3 separate regions of the Homo sapiens genome follow, and regions 1 and 2 are each linked to region 3. The links come from fine-mapping of genetic effects on gene expression. A gene starts in region 3. Each other region holds a variant in brackets. All regions are shown on one strand. Distances are from middle to middle. Region 1 overlaps ADAMTS17 (ADAM metallopeptidase with thrombospondin type 1 motif 17). Region 2 overlaps MEF2A (myocyte enhancer factor 2A). Region 3 holds the start of LYSMD4 (LysM domain containing 4).

What was found. PIP is the estimated chance that this variant, and not a neighbour inherited with it, causes the effect.
Region 1: its variant is the best candidate, but not a certain one, in a credible set for the expression of LYSMD4 in pancreas (GTEx, PIP 0.78).
Region 2: its variant is the best candidate, but not a certain one, in a credible set for the expression of LYSMD4 in lymphoblastoid cells (GTEx, PIP 0.53).

The regions. Positions count from the first base shown.
Region 1 is chr15:100,214,520-100,218,733 of GRCh38, reverse strand. All of the region lies in intron 7 of ADAMTS17 (ADAM metallopeptidase with thrombospondin type 1 motif 17), which reads left to right. Among named protein-coding and RNA genes, the nearest start is that of ADAMTS17, 130 kb to the left of the region's middle. The variant G/A (reference allele first, on the strand shown) is at 1,843.
Region 2 is chr15:99,711,334-99,715,547 of GRCh38, reverse strand. MEF2A (myocyte enhancer factor 2A) reads right to left here. Exons shown (of 12, transcript NM_001319206.4): 12 at 1-3,158. The coding sequence ends at 2,777. Among named protein-coding and RNA genes, the nearest start is that of LYSMD4, 20 kb to the left of the region's middle. The variant CT/T (reference allele first, on the strand shown) is at 2,202.
Region 3 is chr15:99,731,464-99,735,677 of GRCh38, reverse strand. It overlaps LYSMD4 (LysM domain containing 4), which reads left to right and starts at 2,241. Exons shown (of 3, transcript NM_001284417.2): 1 at 2,241-2,333; 2 at 3,671-3,960. The coding sequence starts at 3,679. RefSeq lists silencers at 1,912-2,641, 2,682-2,791.

The DNA of each region.
Region 1 (4,214 bases), 480 kb before region 3:
TATATGTGACTAGGAATGGAATTGCTTGAATCAGATGGTAATTCTAGGTTGAATATTTTGAGACACTGCCAAACGCTTTTCCTATGGGGAGTGTCTACACCGTTTTACATTCCTGTCAGCAGTGTAGGAAGATTCTGTTTTCTCTGCATTCTTGCCAACACCCATCTTTTTGATTATAGTCATTCTGGTGGGTGTGAAGTAGTATCTTATTGTGGTTTTGATTTGCCTTTCTCTAATGGCTGATGTTGAACATATTTTCCCATGCTTATTGACCACACATATTTCTGCTTTGGAAAAATGTCTATTTAGATCATTTGCCCATTCAAAAATTGTGTTTGGTTTTTATTGAGTTGGAATAATTTTTTTTGCTGAGAGGTGGTGTTGGATTCTTCCCAAGAATTTTATTTTTAAATGACAAACCATAATTGTATGTATTTATGGGGTGCAGTATGTTTCAGTACATGTTACATTGTGGAATGATCAAATCAGGCTAGTTAGCATATCTGTCATCTCAAATATTTATAATTTCCTTGTGGTGAGAAAATTTAAAATCGTCTGTTTGGCCGAGTGCAGTGGCTCACGCCTGCAGTCCCAGCCCTTTGGGAGGCTGAGGTGGGCAGATCACTTGAGCCCAGGAGTTTGAGACTAGCCTGGGCAACATGGTGAAACCCTGTATCTACAGAAAATTAGCTGGGCATGGTGGTGTGCACCTGTAGTCCCAGCCACTTGGGAGGCTGAGGTGGGAGGATGCCCTGAGCCCGGGAGGTCAAGGCGGCAGTGAGCACTGATTGTAGCACTGCAGTCCAGCACTTCACAGTGAGACCCTGTTAATCAGTCAATCATTCAGTCATTCCTTTTTTCCTTCCTCTTTTAGCTGTTTTGAAATATATGGTGTACAGACTTGTAAGGATTCTTCATGTATTCTGGGTAAAAGTCACTTACCAGATAGATGATTGGCAAATATCATTTCCCACTGTGGGAACCTTTTCACTTTCTTGATGGTATCTTCCGAAGCATAAAAAATTTCAACTTTGATGTAGTCATTTTTTATCACTTGTACTTTTGGTATCATACCTATGAAATCATTGCCTAACCCAGGATCACAAATATTTACTTTTTTGTTTTGTTTGTTTTTGAGAAGAGTCTTGCTCTGACGCCCCAGGCTGGAGTGCAATGGCATGATCTCGGCTCACTGCAGCCTCCGCCTCCCGGATTCAAGCGATTCTCCTGCCTCAGCCTCCCGAGTAGCTGGGAATATAGGCACCCACCACCACGCCCACCTAATTTTTTGTATTTTTAGTAGAGACAGGGTTTTCCCGTGTTGGCCAGGCTGGTCTTGAACTCCTGGACCTCAGGTGGTCCGCCTGCCTTGTCCTCCCAAACTGCTTCTAAGAGTTTTATATTTTCAGTCTTACGTTTAGGTCTGTGATCCCCTCTGAGTTAATTTTTGTGTATGATGCGAAGTAGGGGTCTAAATTCATTTTCTTGCATATGGATATCCAGTTGTCCTAGTACCACTAATTGAAAAGACTGTTCCTTGCCTGCCTTGTCCGAGATGACATTTTGGTGGGAAACACAGGTATTTTATATTGTGGAACATGAAGTCTCCTGTTTATTTTTCCTATCAGAAAGATGTTGCTGAAACACAAACCCATGTCTCATGTCCCTGTTGTCTAGTTATAAATTTAATATCAACTCTTCCTCTTCAAAACAGCATTTTCAGCTTCAGGAAACTAATTTTATTATTTTTAGACTTGTGTTTGATTAAATACATGGGAAGTCTAGAGCAGGAAGGCACCCTGACCTCACAAAACAGAAGAACATGTGATGTTTCCAAGAAGT[G/A]CATTCAATGTGTGTTTCGAATCTAATCTTAGTAAAATATTGTTACTTAATTATTATGAATTCACCTATCTCAAAATCTGAAAAAGTTTTGTGAAGAGTTCTCTTTCCCCTTGATGAGCAGGGGTGAATTGTTAGGTGGGCCTGGAACGTCAGGACCTAACCAAGGTGGGCGCCATAGGCCTCTGGATAAAGCATCCCGGTAGCTTGGTAGACAGCAGACTGTGTCAGGATAGGTGTCAGCATCGGGAAAAAGGGTTCCGTGAGCTTGTCTTTAAAGGCAGTCAGCGCAAAATCCAGGTCAGGCAAGGAGAGCAAAGGTAAGGAGGCACAGTGCGGTTCCAGACGTTGTAATACGCTGGTATCTTGTCGTGGCCAACCTTGTCCTGGCCCCCAGCGCAGATAAAGAGAGTGGCCTCTGATGCCGGTGAAGGTGGTGTTTTCCCAGTCCCCAGCTCTTTGCTGTTCTTCAGCTTTCCAAATGTCATGTTGATAAAAGCATTTAGAGGTTCACAGCCTCTACGCTGGCAACTAAACTGCCGATCATTGTGAAATTGTCCTGTGCCTTTTGGCACAGAGTTTTGGCTTGAGAAATACTTTCTGTTAAACTTTAAGAAAAAATTTGGACTTGGTCAAACTAATTGCAGTGTTAGATAATATTTGTTCAGGGTTTACTCTGAACATTGCTTCTTCTCTCATTATTCATTTAATCCTCAATTCCACGAGGTAGGTGTTCATCTCATCTTACAAAAGGGGGCACAAGGCTTGGGGAGATGAAACAATTGCCATAGTCACCCAGGTGGGAAGTGGCAGAGGGAGACTCAAATGCAGACCCCAGTCCAGAGCCTGCCCTTCTCACCCCGCTCAGACTCTGCTGGCACAAAGAGAAATCTCCCTGTGGCTTACATTCCCAAGAATGGCCAAGGGAGCTGAGGATATGTTAGGAACAGGGACTCCCGAGTCAGCTCTGCTCTTGTAAGCACAGTCTTGGTTCTCCTGGGGAGAGTCAGCGACACCTAAACTCTGAGTTTGAGTTATTCATCCTCAGGCAAATGGTGTCTTGGAGGTCGCTGGCCATCCTGCCAGCAGCAGGATGTTTTGATACTTGTGTCTTCGAGCGGGAGAAGGGAAATACACTAGCAGCTCCCTTTGCAGAGGCCCATTTGCCCTTACCTACAGAGCAGCCCAGGGGCCTTGTGCATCATCCTTACACCTGGGGAGGGACCAAGAAGGGCACTCCAGGGTCTGCTGACTGAGTCACTTAGGCCAGGCCAGCCCTAGACTTCCCTGACTATCAGCCAGAAGGCCAACTTGTTACCCAAGGGCAGCAGTGACCAGGGCAGGTATCTTAGGGGCTGTCAACTTCTCTGTTGGCCATGCAAAGACTCCACGTGGAGTTGTCTATAGTGCACAAGCTCAGATAATGAAGGAGAATCGGTCATACTGAAATCAAGGCTAGCAGTGAGGTTCCTTCTGCCATGACAATGGGACAGTTACAAGGCTGGAGCTATCAGAAGAACGCCAGACATTCGGGCCCTAATCCATCTGGTAGATGTTCCAGACGAGATCCAGACATGAAATCTAACAAAGAGTCCAGGAAAATCGTCAGCTCATCTCACAAGCAGCTGATCTTCCACATCAACATCTTGCTTCACTTTGGGAAGTTTGCTTCACCAACTTCTGGTTTAATTGCTGGCCTCGCCAGTCTGTCTGATTTAGTATTGCTACTGCGTTCCAAACGCAGGCATGAGGGCTGCCTCTGGCTGTAGCCGGAACCTGCCAGGCACAGTGCAGGGGTCAGGAAACAGCAGTCCACATTCTTGGGTTGTTATGTTTTTGGATGGGAGATTCTGTATTGAGAGGGTTGGAATTAGTCTTTATTTCATGATACCAAATGGAGGTGTAAAAGATCTATGGGACAATAGAGCAGAATGGGCAGTTGTTTCCTCCTAAAAGAGAGTTGTCTCTGCAGGGCAGTAATGAACTTGTCACGGGACAGTGCAACAGCAAAGCTTTACTCTTTCATGGTGTCGTTGTGCTCATAGTGATAATCGAGGACCGTCTCAGGAAGTGTGCCGTGTCGCTTGTGCGTATTTGGAATTGGGATGACTAGCTAAGGAACTAATACAGATACCATTAAGAAATGATTTCAGCCTCCTGCGTGGATGGTGGGCCGAGCAAGTGAACCTAGAACATTCTGTGATTTCCAGTGCCCGGAAGAATAGAGCATGGCCAGGTCAGCAGTACCATTAAGAAGTGGCCAATAAAAGTGCGTATGCAATCCCATGCTCCTCCAGAAGATAGTCTTGAAGGATGGATCCCATTTTATTCCTTTAAAAAATTTATTTTGCCTTTTCAAGTTTTTTATTATTATA
Region 2 (4,214 bases), 20 kb after region 3:
TGAGAGATGTCTGTCAAGTCCATATGCTCCATGCCACACTGGACGTATGGGAAAAAGGTTAACAGTCAAATATTCAGTTCCTGAAATGGAATACATTGTTACTTGGTCAGTGTAATTTAAATACAAACTCCGAGCCTTGAGTAGTAGTATTTTAGAAAACAGTAGTTGTACTGATTATAAACCTGCATAGAAAGAAAGACTATTGAGATACAGTCAGAAAAGCCATCTCATAAGGCACACAAGAAAATAGACAGTAAATGTGAATGTGTTAACTCCTATTCCAATGTACAGCAGAAGTTCATGAACATGCATAAATAATAACGAAGGAATCACTTAACACTTTCAAAGCTATAAATGGTTTACAAAGTGGTAAGGATTATTTTGGAACTTCAGTGTTGGGAGACTGTCTTGTTTGGATTAGGTGTGGCCTTATGAAGAAATGTGCCTGTAAGTAGTTCAGTAAAGTAAGTACATTTTTAAAGAAAAATCCTTTCTGAATAAGAGCCTAATGTCTATACTGAAGAGAGGAGACAGCATGTCATCCTCCTTTTTTTGGCCTCTCTCAAAAGTTACTGCCCAAACTGCCATGAGAACAGAACCTCCAGTTTGCAGCCTGTGGTGCGCAGGTCTCTCCTGCACTGATCATACCTATGTGTCAGTCAGGAAATCTGGCTGATGACTTGTCACAAACAGCAGATGAGGAAAATGTCAAAAGGAACGTAATTTGGGGGGGGGGTGGGGGGGGGGGAACAAAATGTACATAGAAATTGTAGGTAGCTGCTCAATATCATTTAAAATATAAAATAGCAATTTTTAAACCCTTGAGTTTTTTAGGAAAAGGAGTATTTAAAAATCTACAATGAAAGATATACAGGACTTTGAATTTTGCTCATGGCACAAGCCCAGTAAGTGGATGAACTTGCTATCATCCATTAGTTGTCTTCCTGAAAGAATAAGGCCTTGTTCAAAATCCAAGCTGAGGGTGGCACTAATTCCAATTAGAATGGCAAGAGTCATGCCAAGGACCAGCACCCTAAGAGTGTTTCTCCCCGCATACCAAAGCATCACTGCAATGTGCAGAAGAGCTGATAACGGTAGGATTTTGTAACCAGCTGCATCGTTCTGTTTTCAGAGGGTCAAGGAAAAAAGATCCCTTTCCCCATGATTATTTTCCCCTAATCATTTACCACTTATAAAACCTTTGTGCTCATCTACTATTTTGCCATTTTCTCTAATATTAATTAAATTAGGTCAGCTTTTTCTACTACATTTTTTCCTCACAAAAGGCAAGTTTTAAATAATGCCTTACAAAATCTGTTACAACACATTTTATACTTATGCAGGATGAACTTAACACCAATTTTTTTTGCCACTTTGCTATTTATGTACACATACAAAATATATAATGATGCTCAACCCATACAGCACAAAGATTACAATGTAACATCACACATTCACCACCAGTGAGGGGAGAAACCCCTTTATACAATCCTCTGAAAAAACTGGGCTAATAATTAAAATCCAAAGTACAGTATATTTAACAAAATAGTAAATATTAAACAGTGAATACTTAATAAAGGACCTCGCCTTTTCCCCCCAGATTGGCGGCAATCCACAAAAATATACTTTTTAATCTGGTGACCATACAATACATAGGTACTTACATCAAAGGTGATAATATATTTAAGATGCTATATACACAAAGAGTTTGGCTCAACTTTTAATTTACATTTAGAATAAGTGTTCATGGCTTTTTTTTTCCAAGGTTCTGCTTGCAAGATATTTTTGTTTTCCCCTCTTAAAATAAAACTAAAGAGTTAAACCAAGATAAAGCTATTCTCTAAAAAAAAGTTACAACATATAGCTTTGGCTTATATAAATAATTCATAGCAGAATGTGTTCAAAAGTAGTGAATATAATTTTATATATAGTCATCAATTCATAAGGGTGTTTTCTTTCATATAAAATATACATGAGCTAAAATCAGTTTCTTTAATTTTTAAGATATGAATGTAAAAAGAAACTTCTGACATATTCCAATTATAACTTAATATATTAATTTTACTTTGTTAATGCTCTATATTTCTAGGCTAGTATTTTCTGAATATCTCATGCGTGTTTTCTATTCTCTTTCTTTATTAGCTAAAGATCACTTCTTGACCCAATACATTTTTGCACGTGCAAAACAGTTATGTGTGGGG[CT/T]TTTTTGTTTTGTTTGTTTTTAATATCAACAGCCCTTTCCCATGCACCCCTTTGCAACAGACACCCATGCCAGGTTGGAAAATATAAATGACATTTTATGTACAGTATTGCTTTCTTGGTTCCTGCTTTTCTACTGCTCTGTTCTACAAAGCATTTTCTCTTAAGTAACTACAGTCACTGCACAGTTAAATAAAACAAGTAGGGGGCCCTCTAGGTTTCTGCAAGCTAGTGTGGGAGAATTATATATGGGTACACGTTTCTCTGCAAAAACTGGTTATCTTTACGAAACAAGTAGTCCAAGGAAGTGCCAGACTTGTCTGTGCCTACAGGGTGCTTTGTCTGCCATGGGACACACATCTGCAGACCTACAAGGAGTTTGCAGGTAAGTGCCTGATTCTGTGTATGTAACACACACCCACACATACACACTCACACCCACATACATATATATGTAAAGGGATATATATATGTATGTACATATAAATATATTTAACTCATGTCCTTATTTACCGATTTAGATATGTAGGGCAGGTCACTGCAGTAACACAAAAGTACAAACATCAGCTTGGAAGCCTTAGGTCACCCACGCGTCCATCCTCATTCGCTTTACAGAAGGGCTTTCTCTGTCCTCAGTGTTTGGGGGTCGGCCAAGCACAATTGGAGAATGGAAGTCGCCCCGTGGATCCTCCCGATCACTGCCATCATAGGAGCTACTAGAGCTGCTCAGACTGTCCACAGGGGAGCGCCCCATTTCCTGTCGGGGCTGGGGCTGCGGGGGTTGTGGCTGGGGCTGCGGTGGTGGCGGCGGCTGCTGCTGCTGCTGCTGCTGCTGCTGCTGCTGGAAGCCCGATGGGGTCATACGATCCCGAGGAGGTGAAATCGGTTCGGACTTGATGCTGATGTTTTGGTTGGTATTAATGGATAAATTGGAACCCTGAGATAACTGCCCTCCAGCACTGAAGGAAAAAAAAGAGAGAGGTCAGATGGCTTGCAAGTACCTCTGCAAAACTGGGATGATACAGTAGAGACACTGCCTGATGGAAAAGGGCCCAGAGTCTGAAATCTTATCAGAGTTCCCCAAGACTGGTTTGGGTCGTTTCCTTCAGTGCTTGGCACAAAAGGAAATCCCATCTTCCTAGGAGGAAAGAAAACAGTACCGTTGAGCCCTTACGTTACTTGGTTCTGTTACCCACAACGTTGGTACTTTTGCAGCTAAAGTATACAAAACAATGTCAGTGTCTTAATGCTGTGCAGGGACCAGAAAGACAGAGGAACAGCAGCCTCATCTGCTCACCGCCTCTTCTTCCTCAGCATCTGCTCCCCATCTGCTCTGGCCCTGTGACAGGGCACAACATCGCTCATCCTCGCAACACCTCTAAGGTGCAAGTCGCACCATCCCCATTTTCCAGATGAGGAAATGAGGGGCTGGCTGAGAGCAGTAGAGGAGGACGCAAACAGGCTGTTCCCCGGGCCTGGGCTCTGAGCCCTTTCCACTTGCTTTTCCAGGACTATTTTTAGTGCATTCATTTAGGATGCTCAGGACAGGCCTGAGGGCCAAATCCTGTGTAGGCAAATTTCCCTGAGATACTCTGCTGCTTTTTCCATGACATAATTCCTAAGAAGACCACTGACAACAATCCTCACTGTGCAGTTACTTCAGAATGGATGAGGGAAAGGGACTGCTGAGCTCAGGCTCTCTGGGGACTTCCTGGGCAGAGGCTAGGGGCCTGGGGTATTCCTACTGCCCAGAGCACAGGCAAGGCAGCCAGTCTTCATGGAGGCCAGCTGGGTCTGCTATGTTGTCCCCTCTCTTGGGACACTCTCCTCCAACTGCTCCATGGGTCTGCTGTCATCCTGGTTCCACAAAAGCCCTGTTCTTTCTCCCGGCTGTCAGGGATGTCTGGCCTCATCTGGGCGCCACTGTAAATCCTCTTTGCTTATATCCTTACACCCTGCCCATACGGAACATTCTCTTTGTGAATGAGGTTTGGTGTGTGCATTGGGCTGGGATC
Region 3 (4,214 bases):
AGACAGTCCAGTAATGCAAGCAGCTTGAGAGAAGGAGCCTTGAAGCCTGTATTAGGTTCTCCAGAGAGACAGAACCAATAGGAGATACCTATCTATCTACAGATACAGAGTCAGGTCCTCCAGAGAGACAGAACCGATAGGAGATATCTACCTATCTACAGATACAGAGTCAAGTCCTCCAGAGAGACAGAACTGATAGGAGCTATCTAATCTATCTATCTATCTATCTATCTATCTATCTATCTATCTATCTACCTACCTACCTACCAATAGGAGATATCTGTCTATCTATCTATATATCTATTTCTACCTATAGAGAGAGACACAAAGTGAGTGAGTGAGAGAGAGGAGATTAGACTTGGCTCACACAATTAAGGAGACTGAAAGTCCCGGGACAGGTGGGTCTGCAAGCTGGAGACCCTGGGATGCAGATAATATGGTTCAGTGCAGGTCCAAAAACATCAGAACCAGGGAAGCTGATGATGTCACTCTCATTCCAAGGCCAGAGTCTTGAGAACCCTGGGGGTTAGGGGAGGGTAAGTCCTGGAGTCCAGACCATTTTGGGCTTTGTCCACGAAGATTAACAATTTGACTTTTAGTTTAAGTGGGTGTATTAGTCCGTTTTCATCCTGCTGATAAACACATACCCGAGACTGGGCAAAAGAAAGAGGTTTAATGGACTCACAGTTCCACCTGGCTGGGGAGGCCTCACAATAATGGCTGAAGGTGAAAGGTGCATCTCACATGGCAGCAGATAGAAGAAAAGAACTTGTGCAGGGCAACTTCCCTTTATAAAACCATCAAATCTAGTGAGACTCATTCGCTATCTGGAGAACAGCACAGAAAACACCTGCTCCCATGATTCAATCACCTCCCACCAGGTCCCTCCCACAACAGGTGGAAACTGTGGGAGCTACAATTCAAGATGAGTTTTGGGTGTGGACACAGTCAAATCCTATTAGTGGGAAAAGGTTTGTGAGATCTTGTTTTAATGTTTGCTTTGTTGTTTAATCTGATTGCAAGTGAGGGTTAAAAACATTTTCAACCTGTTGACCATTTGCATTGTTTGCTGAATTATCTGCTCCTGTCTCTCTGAGGTCTCCCTCAGACCTGCTGAGGTCTTAGCATCTTTCCTATTCATATGAAGTCTCTCTCAGCGAAGGATTTTAATCCTTTGTTGTGTTCAGTTTATTTTCCCTAGGTTATCTGCTTTTTAATTTTGGTTTTCCTTTTTAAGTAGAAGCTCTGAACTTTGTGCCTTAGTGTGTGAGGTTTTTGTTTTTGTTTTTTTTTGAGATGGAGTCTCCCTCTGTTGCCCAGGCTGGAGTGCAGTGGCACGATCTCGGCTCACTGCAACCTCCGCCTCCGGGTTCAAGCAATCCTCTGTCTCAGCCTCCTGAGTAGCTGGGATTACAGGCGCCCGCCACCATGCCCGGCTAACTTTTTTATTTTTTTTTATTTTTATTTTTTTAGTAGAGACGGGGTTTCACCATCTTGGCCAGGCTGGTCTCGAACTCCTGACCTCGTGATCCACCAGCCTCGGCCTCCCAAAGTGCTGGGATTACGGGCGTGAGCCACCGCGCCCGGCCAGTGTGTGAGAATTCTTCCACCACTTTTCATCTTAAGAAATCCTCGGCCACCTGACATTTGATAAACACGACTTAAGTTTTCTTGGTCCCTGTTGTCCGCATCCATGTTTTACACTCGTGGATTTCTGTTTTCTTCTCGGGGTGGGGCAATGCCTCCCCTGGTGCGGCCCTCAAAGGCCCAGGAGCGCAGATCCCGCCGCAGAAAGACCCCTCGCCCATCTGCGCCCAGCCCTTCCCCGCAGGAGGGCTCAGGGGACCCCACGCTACTGGAATCCACCCCGAGTCACAGCTACAGATCATTACCCACAAGTGGGGTCAAAGGCCTCTTTACGGGCGAGAAAGCTGCGGCTCAGCAGAAAGCCAAGCACTTTGGGAGGGAGGAGCTGAGGTGCCTTATTACTCCGAACAGACGCGAAAACAAGCCAGGGCCCGCGCGGGTAGACCTGGTAGGCGGGTGGGCGGGGCGAGGGCCACTTCCGGGGTGTGGAACCCTGTCGAGCCCCGCCCCGAGCCCCGCCCCGAGCCCCGCCCCGGGCCCTGTGGTCCCGGGATGAGCTCTCCGCGCAGCCAGGCTCGCTCCAGTGCCCGCCCAGCGCTGACTTCATTGGCTGCCTCCCCAGTCCCGCCCCCAGGGGGGCCCTGCTGATGTTCGTAGCCAATCCGCAGGCGCGGTGGCAGCTGCGGGTCGCGGGTCGCGGGTCGCGAGTCGCCGGTCGCCGGTCGCGGCGGAGCCTGGGCGCTGAGGTACCGGGGCCTGGACGAGGGGGCCGCGGTCTGGCTAGGGAGCCGCGCGGGCTCATGGCGGTACGGCGACCTGGCCTCGCTCGAGGGTTCGCGGGCGGGCCGCCCCTCCCCGGGCTCCTAGGGGGACGCTCCAGCTGGAGGGGCGGTGACCGCGACTGTCGTGGGCTGGCCCCAGGTGGCTAGGGTTGGGGGTCAGAGGTCAGAGGTTCTGCCCTCTGGAATGTTAGGGCCCCGCCCGTGGAGCCGTGGAGCCCTGGGGCCGGGCCGCTCCCCATTTTCCTGTCAGCTCTTGTTGAGGTGCCCCATCTTTTCGCAGAAGGGACTTGGAGGGAAGCGGGCCTGGAGCTGCTGCCGCCGCCCCTGAGCTCGGACGCGAAGGCTGGCCCCGTCCCCGGGCTGCCGCCGTGGTCCTGCAGGTGACCCTCAACCCCCCGAGGACCGCCGGCCGCCTCCCGCCTCCGGGCAGGCTCAGGAGCGCGCGGAGCGGGGTGTGGGCCTGTGACCCTCGAAGGCGTGGGCGGGGAGTAGGGGGTCGAGCTGGGGCCGCAGGCTGTCCCCGTACGGGCTGCTCCCCTGTGGCTCCGAAGCCACCTTTTTCTGAAGTTGTCAGCCCGCGTGTTTGAGATTTCGTTTCTGGAATCTCACGCGAACAATCTGGAGAGAGGAACAGGGGTCTTGCGGCTTTGGCTGTTGACTCAAGGGGAAAATAAAAACCAGACAATGGGGATGTAATGAATGCAAAGTGACCCGTGAGCAAACTGGACGCTTTTCTCCGGCTGACAGGCATGAGTTCTCCCCGTAGCTTGCCCCACATACTGTGAGTTAAACTGTGTCAAAGTAAGAGCAGTTTAGCCCCACAGTTCTGAGCAAGAGTCCTTAGCGCTGACCTTCTTAGTGAAGATACTTTGCAATGTGTAAAATATTGAATACAAAATTATTGTGCAAAGCTTCTGAGTTGAAGATTCTGAGTGCGCGGAGGCTGGCGGCAGCCCTTACTTGCCATTGCAAGGATCTCAACTTACTACTCTGAGAGCAAAAGTAGTTGTTTCTTTACAGATGTGGGTTTAGGGGAGACAGCTATGGATGAGGAACAGGGGCGGGGTTCGTTTTCTGCACAAAACGTATGCGATTAGAAAAAACAAAGGGTTTTTATTCTGCCTATCTTCTTCCATCTCAGCCAGCATAAGCACATTCTTTTTTTTCTGTTGATGATGTATGCTGAGTATTTGCAGCGATTAGGAAAAGGAATACTCTCTAACAAGACACTTCTCTTTAAACGAGGCGGTGGAGGGATGATTATGTCTTCTGTGGAATTAACCCTCCGGCTTGATTTTCAGTGAAGAAAATGAGGCACGAGGAATTGTTAACCAAGACCTTCCAAGGCCCAGCTGTTGTGTGTGGGACTCCGACCAGCCACGTATACATGTTTAAGAATGGCAGTGGGGACTCGGGGGACTCTTCTGAAGAAGAGTCTCACCGTGTGGTTTTGCGGCCCCGGGGCAAGGAGCGCCACAAGAGCGGTGTCCACCAGCCTCCCCAGGCGGGAGCAGGTGACGTGGTGCTGCTGCAGCGGGAGCTGGCCCAGGAGGACAGCCTCAACAAGCTGGCGCTGCAGTATGGCTGCAAAGTAAGACACCCCTCAGGGGCCCTGCCCCGCTCCGTTTCAAGGAACACGGGGAACTCACTGCAGGGTGGGTGCCCTTGCCGCCCTTCTTAACCCTGCCAGGCCGTCAGGAGAGGCCTGCTGTAGCAGCCAAGGACTCCCCTATTTAGCCAGAATTGGAATGCAGGTGGGAGTACCTTTAGTTCCCAACCCTGGCCCCCAAAGAGGGAGGGTTAGCGCATTTCTTTCTCTGCAGGGAACTTCTCCTTTTCCTGTTT